Linked DNA regions of Homo sapiens: region 2 is linked to region 1. The links come from fine-mapping of genetic effects on gene expression. A gene starts in region 1. The other region holds a variant in brackets. All regions are shown on one strand. Distances are between the middles of the regions.

What was found. PIP is the estimated chance that this variant, and not a neighbour inherited with it, causes the effect.
Region 2: its variant is the best candidate, but not a certain one, in a credible set for the expression of STK38L in pancreas (GTEx, PIP 0.66).

Annotation. Positions count from the first base shown.
Region 1 is chr12:27,242,295-27,246,691 of GRCh38, forward strand. It overlaps STK38L (serine/threonine kinase 38 like), which reads left to right and starts at 1,992. Exons shown (of 14, transcript NM_015000.4): 1 at 1,992-2,038. RefSeq lists enhancers at 703-762, 3,351-3,400 and a silencer at 1,821-2,060.
Region 2 is chr12:27,288,399-27,292,795 of GRCh38, forward strand. All of the region lies in intron 1 of STK38L (serine/threonine kinase 38 like), which reads left to right. LOC124902905 (a long non-coding RNA gene) reads right to left here. Exons shown (of 3, transcript XR_007063254.1): 1 at 3,006-4,397; 2 at 1,171-1,269. Among named protein-coding and RNA genes, the nearest start is that of BMAL2, 42 kb to the right of the region's middle. The variant C/T (reference allele first, on the strand shown) is at 2,621.

The DNA of each region.
Region 1 (4,397 bases):
ATCTACTTCCAAGCTTACTTACATGATTATTGGCAGTATTCAGTTCATCACAGGTTGTTGGACTGGGGGCCTGAATTCCTTGGTGGCTGTTGACTGGATCTCTCTCAGTTCCTTGCCATGTGGGCTTCTCTGTAAGGCAGGTCACAAGACAGCAGCTGGCTTCCATGAAAGCGAGCAAGTGAGAGAGCAAGGACAAGCAAGATGGAGCCCAGAATATTTTTGTAACCTAATCACGGAAATGATATCCTAATCACTTTTGCTATATTTCCTTTTTAAGAACTAAGTTACTAGAGAAGGGAATTACAGAAGGCAGGAATACTAGAAGGCGTGGATCATTGGCAGCCATCTTAGATGCTACTACTACTTACCACATAATTATATTACAAACTCACTTTTTAGTATTTTGGTAACTGTATGTTAACATTATCAATTTCCTTTGTAACCCTAGGTAGTTTATGCATTTAAGAACACTGTTTTGAAAAGGGGTCCATAGACCACCAAAATTCTGGTTCATAGCTCTAATTTGTTTCAGTTGAGGTACTTTCAACAACTTCCCAGGGAAATTTGTTTACAATGGTCTCAATTTAGGAGAATTTAGGAACTAGAGGTCAAAGTCTTAGGCTATCCCATATTAACCTAGACTGCTACTCTATACTAGTTCATATTACTCTAGTATGGCACATTTGAAGACATAAATTTGCTGTGGAACAAACCATACACTGTTCTCAATCTTATCGTAGCATTTGAATGGTATGTGTATGCGTGCAGTACAGGGAGAAGGGTGTATAGGCCTGTCAAGCTTGTCTGATCACAATTAAACCTCCTATGCTTGTATATGACAACTGTCATTTGAGTTTCAAAATGACCATATAAGTGGAGCTGATCTCCCCAAAAATACACTAATTACCAAACTAGAGCTTTTCCCACTACTAAGCTATGTATGAAAAAGCACAGTGTAAGAAAGAGAAATGAGGTAATGCTTCTTTCCTAGGTGTTTTGCTCGTGTCACCTGCTCTTGGGAAACCTAAAGATGACAGGTGGCATTTCTAAGTGATAGTTTTTGCAAGCACAGTACCAGCTTCATACGTTGTCTCAGTAAGCTAAAAGCTAAGAATATTTTATAAGACCTCCAATACTCATATTGAGGATAAACTTGCCAACAATAATTGGGAGTCATTCTCTCATTTGGCTTTCCCAAAGGCCAGTTTTGTCCCCAGACGCAAATTGCATCAACCTTCCCAAAGTTGTCCCTTTTGGGTCATCCTATAGGGGAGTGCTCTTCTGCACAATTCTCAGATCCTACTGATAAAGCAGGCCAGTACTGTAGTTATTTTAGATTTTCCAAGAAAACTCAAACAGGTTTTTAATGTATTTTTTGTGGCATTTACAAATCCTGGTTCCTCTCCAGTCTCTGGAGTCCCCTCATGGTGAAATGGAAGCGTCAAGGAACCTGGGTGGCTTCGAGTCCCCACAGCTACCGACTGAGCAACTTAGCTGATCCATCTTTGTTGACAACTGTTTCCCAATCTGAAAAATGCGTGAATTCTCTCTTTCCATTTCTAACATTCTTTGCATTGCACTGTTTGAAAAATTCGGATGACATTTAGAATGTGACTAATGTCGCAACACATTAGGCCACTCTCAAGAGAGGCCTGAACAGGTTTGGCGTAAAAACGGCAGTGAGGTGAGGCTGGTGAGAGGGGAAGTGGCGACAGTTCAGTCAACTCCCTCAAAACCAGTCTGGCCTTCACCAGGCGGAGATGGGTGGGGCCGGGAAGACGGGCGTTGACGACAGAAGGCTACTTCCGGCTGTGGTGCGTATGACGTCAGGGCGAGTCGGACCGACCCAGCCACCGAGAAGCCGAGGAGGCAAGGCTCGCGAGAGTTCAGGGAGGCCGCCCTGAGATTCCGGCGAGGCCGCGGGTCCCACCTCCCGGGGGCGGGGCGAGGGCGGAGCGGGGAGAAGGGAGCTGACGGGCGCCCGGCCGGCTGCGGTCCGTGCGGAGGCTGAGCCGGCCGCGGGCGCGACCGGAGGCAGGTGAGTTCGCGGATGTAGCGCTCGGCTGAGGGCCCGAGCTCGCCGCGCCAGCCCCAACTCTGCGAGCAGGAGCAGGAGGAGATTTTAGGTGTCTTTGGGTGTCCAGGGAAAGCCGGGCTAATTCTGGGGCTGGAAATGTCTCCGGGGAACCTGCGGCGACGGCCTTGGCCCTCTTATTCCCCGGGGTGATACTGGCCCCATGTGTCCAGAGAGGGAGCCTCGCACCCGGGGAGGAATCTTTGTCCTCTGCTCCTTTCTCCTTCCACTCCCCGGCCCCCGAGCACTCCGCTCCGGGTCCCCGCCTGGGCTTCACAAACAATAACAAATGTCGCGGATCCTCTCCGGGTAGCCCCAGCGCTCCCGTCCCGTGCCCTCCAGCCGATGTCACCCAGAGCCAGGATCCGAAGCATGGCTCTTCAATTGTGGGGGCTGTTTGTGTACCGTTCCTAAAAACTGATGCGTCAGATTGCCAAACATTTCTCAAGACAGACTCAGGAAAGCCTCCCAGCTCCTAGAAGCCACGGAGTGCTCAAAACCAGTCTTAGAATCTGTCTTTACCATTGCACCCGTAGCCCCTTCCTTTCAAAATCATTTCTCCCACTCCTTTTTTCACCTTTAGTATCGAGGTCGAACGAGTGGTTATTTGGTGTGGGAGTAGAAAAGAGTATAACCGATTGAGTAGGGCACGTTTCACCTTTAAAAAGTTGCCAGGTTGACAGCAAAAGAACAAACTTTATTTTCAAAACCAGTGGCCTCCCCTTTTACTGGTGCTGCTTTTGTTTTGTGGAATAGCTTTTCGGGTTCTAAGTTTGGAGGAATGATATAAAAAGAAGTGGGAGGTGGGGGGAGGGCTAGTGGCTCTGGAAGTAGTGGCTTGTCCAAAAGTAGGATGCTATTGTTTCTCACTTGATAAAATGCAGAACCAACACTTTTACCCATTTCACATAACTTGTGATAAGTTTTGAGAGAAGCCACTTAATCGGAAATGGCCTATTAGCTTATTTTACTGCTCAAATCTGAAAAAACAGCTTTAAGTGATTTAAGTTCTGCCTCTTGATTGTAAGATGGGGATTGATGAGTGAGACCTTGTCTTTTTTGGCGCTGGGGCTTACGTTTGACCGGTCTCTCTACTTTAAGGCAGGGCCTATTGTACTTAAGCCCATTTTTGCTTCCTCAGTACAGATTCTTGAAAGTTCTTTGTCTCAATCATATATGTATATAAGGTACTGTAAACCTCTTTGAATTTGATTGGCCTTTCTCTCTGTGCCTCAGGATATGTAAAACAATTAAGTTTATTATACTCTCTCCCCAGTGGCTGAGAGGTATTGTATGTGAATTAGCCACCCTTGTGACTATTTGAGGAGAGAGAAGTTAGTCTAAAATATTATGTTAAATTATGATATTACATAATTTTATTGCATAAGTTCATCAAACTACTTCCATCTGAAAAATCCTGATCTCAAAATAGGTAGGTACAATGAATTAAAAAATGTTTTGGTTTGACCTCACTTAGCTTTGTTTTCTCCTTGTTAAGATGGCTGATAATGTTTCCCATTTGGTTGTGATGTGTTTAGAATGAGAAGCAAAGTTGGGTGTAGTTTTTGTACTCTTTTGAAAGGCCTTGCCACTAGGAATGAAAAAATTAGACTTAGAAAACACACATTAAATAGAAGCAGTTTTTCTCTAGCCATTTGCTCTTGAGTTTGTTTTAAAATAAGTCAAAGAATGGAGACTGAGATGATTTGTGCCAACAAATAGATGTCCTTGTTAGTTTTTATGCTGAAAACTTGATTTCTAAAGGTAGGACACTGTAAGAACAAAGGAGAAATTGGACTTCCTAAAAAATGATAACAAAGCAATGGACTCAGTTCAGCTGTTTGCTTTCAGAAAAGTTCTGTTCTCTTAAAGTAAGGAGAGCATCATTGTGTTAGTGAAATTGGATAACGCACCTTAGAAAGTGCCTCCCCAGTGATCCAGGATAAGTTGGAGGCTCTTTTGTGTGTGTGTGGCACTTTTTGTTAAGAGGGAGAAAGGGCACAAATCAGAGCCAGAAAGATTTGCATCTCGATGTATTGTTAAAATGCTTTTATTTTATGTAAATAGTGTCAGGTGAATCAAGCAAGCATATTGTTGTCTAGCATCCTTAGGATTACATTAAAATCAGCAGATTGGCAAGTTATGATTAGGTTAGACTTGACATATGCAGAAATTATGCTTCTGTATTTTTATATTAAAAGCACCATGGTCTTTTTGAATGAAATAATGAAAGCAAGCTTTTAAGACATAACTTTTTTAAAAAATTAAAAATCTGTCTTTGGTTAGTTTATAAACATGAAGCATATCCTCCTCTTCTTCCCCC
Region 2 (4,397 bases), 46 kb after region 1:
AAACTCATGATATTGGGTTACTGGATGTATTAATAGATGGAAGCATGGCTCAGCTGACAAGGCAAAGGGAAGGATAGATCCTTCTGGGTGCACTAGCTATCATCTCACTCATCCAAACCCACAATTCAGAGCCATAGTTTAAACCTGTTGGCCCCAAATTCTCTAGATCACTGTAATATCTGTCTTTCCCCCAACCATGCTCTCATGCTCTCCAAAAGTTTCCCTAGGCCACTTAATTCATCTTTATAAATTCTATAAATTTCTGTATATATTTTATAATTAAATATGAATAACATAAAGATATATCATTTTATATATATATTTATAAATTTGTTTTTTCCCAGTTGTTTTCATTTTGTTTTACCTCTGAATATTTCCTCCTTTACAAATAATGTTGACATACTCACTCTGGTCTCCCCTCACCTTCGTTACCCATCATCTCCCTCCCCCCTGCCATTTACTCCCCCTTCTTGCAAATTGTGGCTTTTTTTCTCTTTTATATCAATCAAGACAAATATTTTTCTGTATGTGCTCGTGTGTGTGCCAGTAATAGAAACTGATTTAAAATTCTTTTAGGGATGCCCATACTATCTAAAAGTTGGCATTGATTTTTTTTTCCCATCGAGGTGCTAGATTATAAGTATTTGAAGTTATGTGGCATTTCTGCTGAGGTAATTTTTTAAAGTTAACTATGACTTGATTCAGCTGAACATTTTTTTGCAGACAAAATCTAGTGCACTACCAGATAGGCATATAGCAATAGAACAATTAAATTTTATAAATATTTTAAGAATAGACTGCTTCTTTCTGAATGTTTTTGAGAAAGACAGGGTGATAGTTTATCTAAACATTAAGATCGGTAAATAGAATTTTAAATAAAATTGCTGCTTTGGTAAATTTACCTCTTAATTGTTTGCATTTGGTTTATAAACACTTTCCCCTTCTCATTGCAAGTTTTAAAAAAAAATGAAGTTCAGAGGGATTTTTAGTAATTATTTGGACCAATAAACTCAGGTATTCTGCCATGAACATCATTACTACAGCCAAATAAGCTTTCAGGTACTCAACCATTGAACTATATTTTTGTGCATAGGAAAACTATTTCGAAAACAGTTTTGAAAATGAAAATGCTAATGTTGAGTTCAGCACCACTGTGCCATCATCACCAACCTTATGATTCACAGAAGGAGCAAAGACAAGGGTGTCTGTTTATGAAATGCATTCCTCTGGTCTAGTGATCAGGGCATACGCCACATGGAGAGGGCCACGCTAAATAAAAACAAAAGCTATTAACAGCAGATACAGTAAAGAGATTACAAATAAATTGGTGTGTGTTGCCTCATGAGAATCACTCTTTTGTGAGAGAAAGGGTTAGCTCTTCCCTGGAACACCTCTACCTCTAGTTCTACCCCAAATCACTACTAACTTCTAGTAAGGCTTCTACCAAGAGTTCTTTTTTTACTTTAAATATTTCTTTTTGCTACATTTCTCTCCCCTCTCCATTAGAAGTAATCTAATTTGTCAAAGAAGTAGGCTAAGATCAGAAGAGAGAGGGAATGTCTATTAGAGATTAAATTTACAAACTAACTGACAATGGCAGCAGCCCAAGGCAGGAGGGATGAGCAGGAAGATTGAGCAGGGAAGGGAAGAAAATTAATAATTTTTGAGCATTAATATGTGCTAGGAGATACTTTAAAAATATTTTTTACTGATTTATTGATTTATCAAACACATGACGTATCTCAGTCCTTTTACAAGTACTAACTTTTAGAATTATCTTAAGTCTTATATTATCATAATAAGCATGCACACAAGGTGGCTATTATTATATTTATTTAACAGGAAACTGACACACAGAAAGTTTAAAGTTTAATTTGCCTAAAGTGACACAGCTAGTGAATGGCTGCACCAAAATTCAGACCCAGGCAATCTGGCCTTTCATCCTGTGCTCTGCCACCATCAAAGCGTCATATCAACCTTATAAGGTTGGCATTTATGATCTCCATTTTAGAAATGTGGATCCTGACTCAGGTTAAATAACTCAGACAGGATCAGCCTTAAACTAACTTTCTTAAACTAGCCTTAAACTAGCTTTTCTTATACTTTCTGTCCTTACTGATCATTTACCCAGTCATCCACATCTGAAACTTAGAGATAATTAGAGACTTTAGTCTTTCCAGCTGACTAACTGAGGCTTCTTCACTTCTGCTACTATCTTAATTAGTCCCTCACTATTCTGTAATCTCAAATGTGCTGTAAAGGAAGCAGGTGGGTAATAAAATGTGGGTAATAAAAAGTGAATGAGTCTGGGCACGTGGGAATGGAGAGTTGGTGGACGGGTGGGATGTTGTATTGTAAGGGGCCGGCTGCAGCTCTGCTCCAGCTGTCATTGTGGAGCTGACAGAGCTCATTGTGGACAGATCAGACTTTTCAGGAGAAACCAGAAACCTGGATTTTCATGTGAAACCTTCTACTTTCTAAATTGTAGCACAAGCCTAACAAAATGATTCTGCAGGCTACCAGGTTGTAATCTCTGACTATTCATTATTAAGCCTCCTGAGCAGATTTACTTCCTCTAGTCTGATCTGTACTTCCAGCCTTTTGGCCATCCTCCCTGTAC[C/T]AGCATAATCTATCCGAAGTGCAAATCAGATAGGATTTGAGGGCTGGTTAGGAGAATTAAATGCTTCTAAGAATGTAATATTCTTAGAAGAATTCTGGGTACTTGGGTAAAAACTCAATAAATATTCTTTAATGGCTGTTAGGTTTTCACTAAATTAAAAGCCTTGAGTGATTCCCATTTATGTTCAGGATAATTTTTAACATGACAAAAAAGTTCCTTATTTCTACCTTCATCTTCTGCCATTTAATCAAATATACTCAGTCTATCGGTATGCTTAAGTGTGTCAGTGTATTTCATGCCTTACAGCTCTTCCTCCTCTGAGTCCATCTGACTGGTGAACTCTTACTATAGCCCCATCCCCTCCAAGATTCAGTTCAGGCATCACCTTCTGTATTAAACCTTTGATTATCCTTCCTCTTGAAGCACTGATTTCTCCCTACTTTGTGTCTCCATAAGATCATGAACTCCCTAAGGGCCGGAACTGTGTTTTATCAGTCTTATTCTCAGCACTTCATACAGTCAACATGGTATATATCTGCAATAAATGTTGGTTGAAAATAAAACAATTAGTGAAAGTTAATGCTGGGATTTGAAACTTCACCTATGAATTTCTTGCATTTTAGACTGTGCCTCAGAGAGGAAAGAAGCTGTAGCTGCCCTTTCGTTAGGGACCCAGTTTATACAGTGTACAATCTGAGGACTTATTGTAGCCTAGGGCATTATGATTGCAACTAGTGAATTGAATTTAGGCGAATTTTTATACTACAAGGCAATATAGTAGCATTAAGGACACTCCTTCCTCTGAAATGCAGTATGTGAAAACTAAGGTGAAATCACCAGTTAAATAATTTGTTTTACAGCCAGGTAAAGCAGTTCTATTTTCTTCCTTTAGAAATTTGATGGTAAATGGTTGGAGATACCACATCTATTTATAAATGGCCTGAGTGCCAGATTTGTTATCTCCTTTCCCCAGGCTTGATAAAAAAGAATGTTGGACTTAACTATTGGTAGTGTCTCCATTAATGAATAGAGCAGTCTGGAGAAAACACACGTGAACAGGAAATTCAAGGGCACCTTGTGTTGTTTTTATCAGTCCAGGAATTCTAGACTTGCAAATTGTATCCTGTTCTTTTTCTGGCCAAAGAAAGGGCTTTAATAAAACAAAAAGAACAGTGTTAAATCCATTAAAGGAATACATTTGCAATACAATAAGTGCCAGTCATCTAGACCATTCTTTGTAATAATTTGATCACTTCTTAGTTTTGTATAATTTAAATTTTTAAAAGTCTGTCTGTGTCTGGTAAGAAGGAAACAAATTTTTCTTGTTTTTAAAGCTAATCTTGTTTTTAAAGCTAATCTTGTTTTTAAAGCTAATCTTTAAAGCTAAACTATACAAGATATTGTATAATCATGAGTAAGGGTGGGATTTTTGTTTTTTCTGCAAATGTGTTTCTTAAGTAAGATTTATTTCTGAAGGCTAATAGAATACCAAATGATTCTGTATTTCTTAACCCAAATGAAATTATTATATATGAAACACACATATAATTTAAAATCTATTACATTAGAGTTGAGTTACCATCACTTACAGACTGCCTACTGTGTGCTCATCACTTTGCCAGGTACTGCGATGCTTTCATTACAAAGATAAATAGATGGAGATTTTGCCCTTATTTGGTTTTTAAACAAGACATACATGTATGTGTAACTACAATGGAAAGAACATCATAATCATTACTAAATTATATAGAGTCTAAAAGTAATATTTCATTACTTG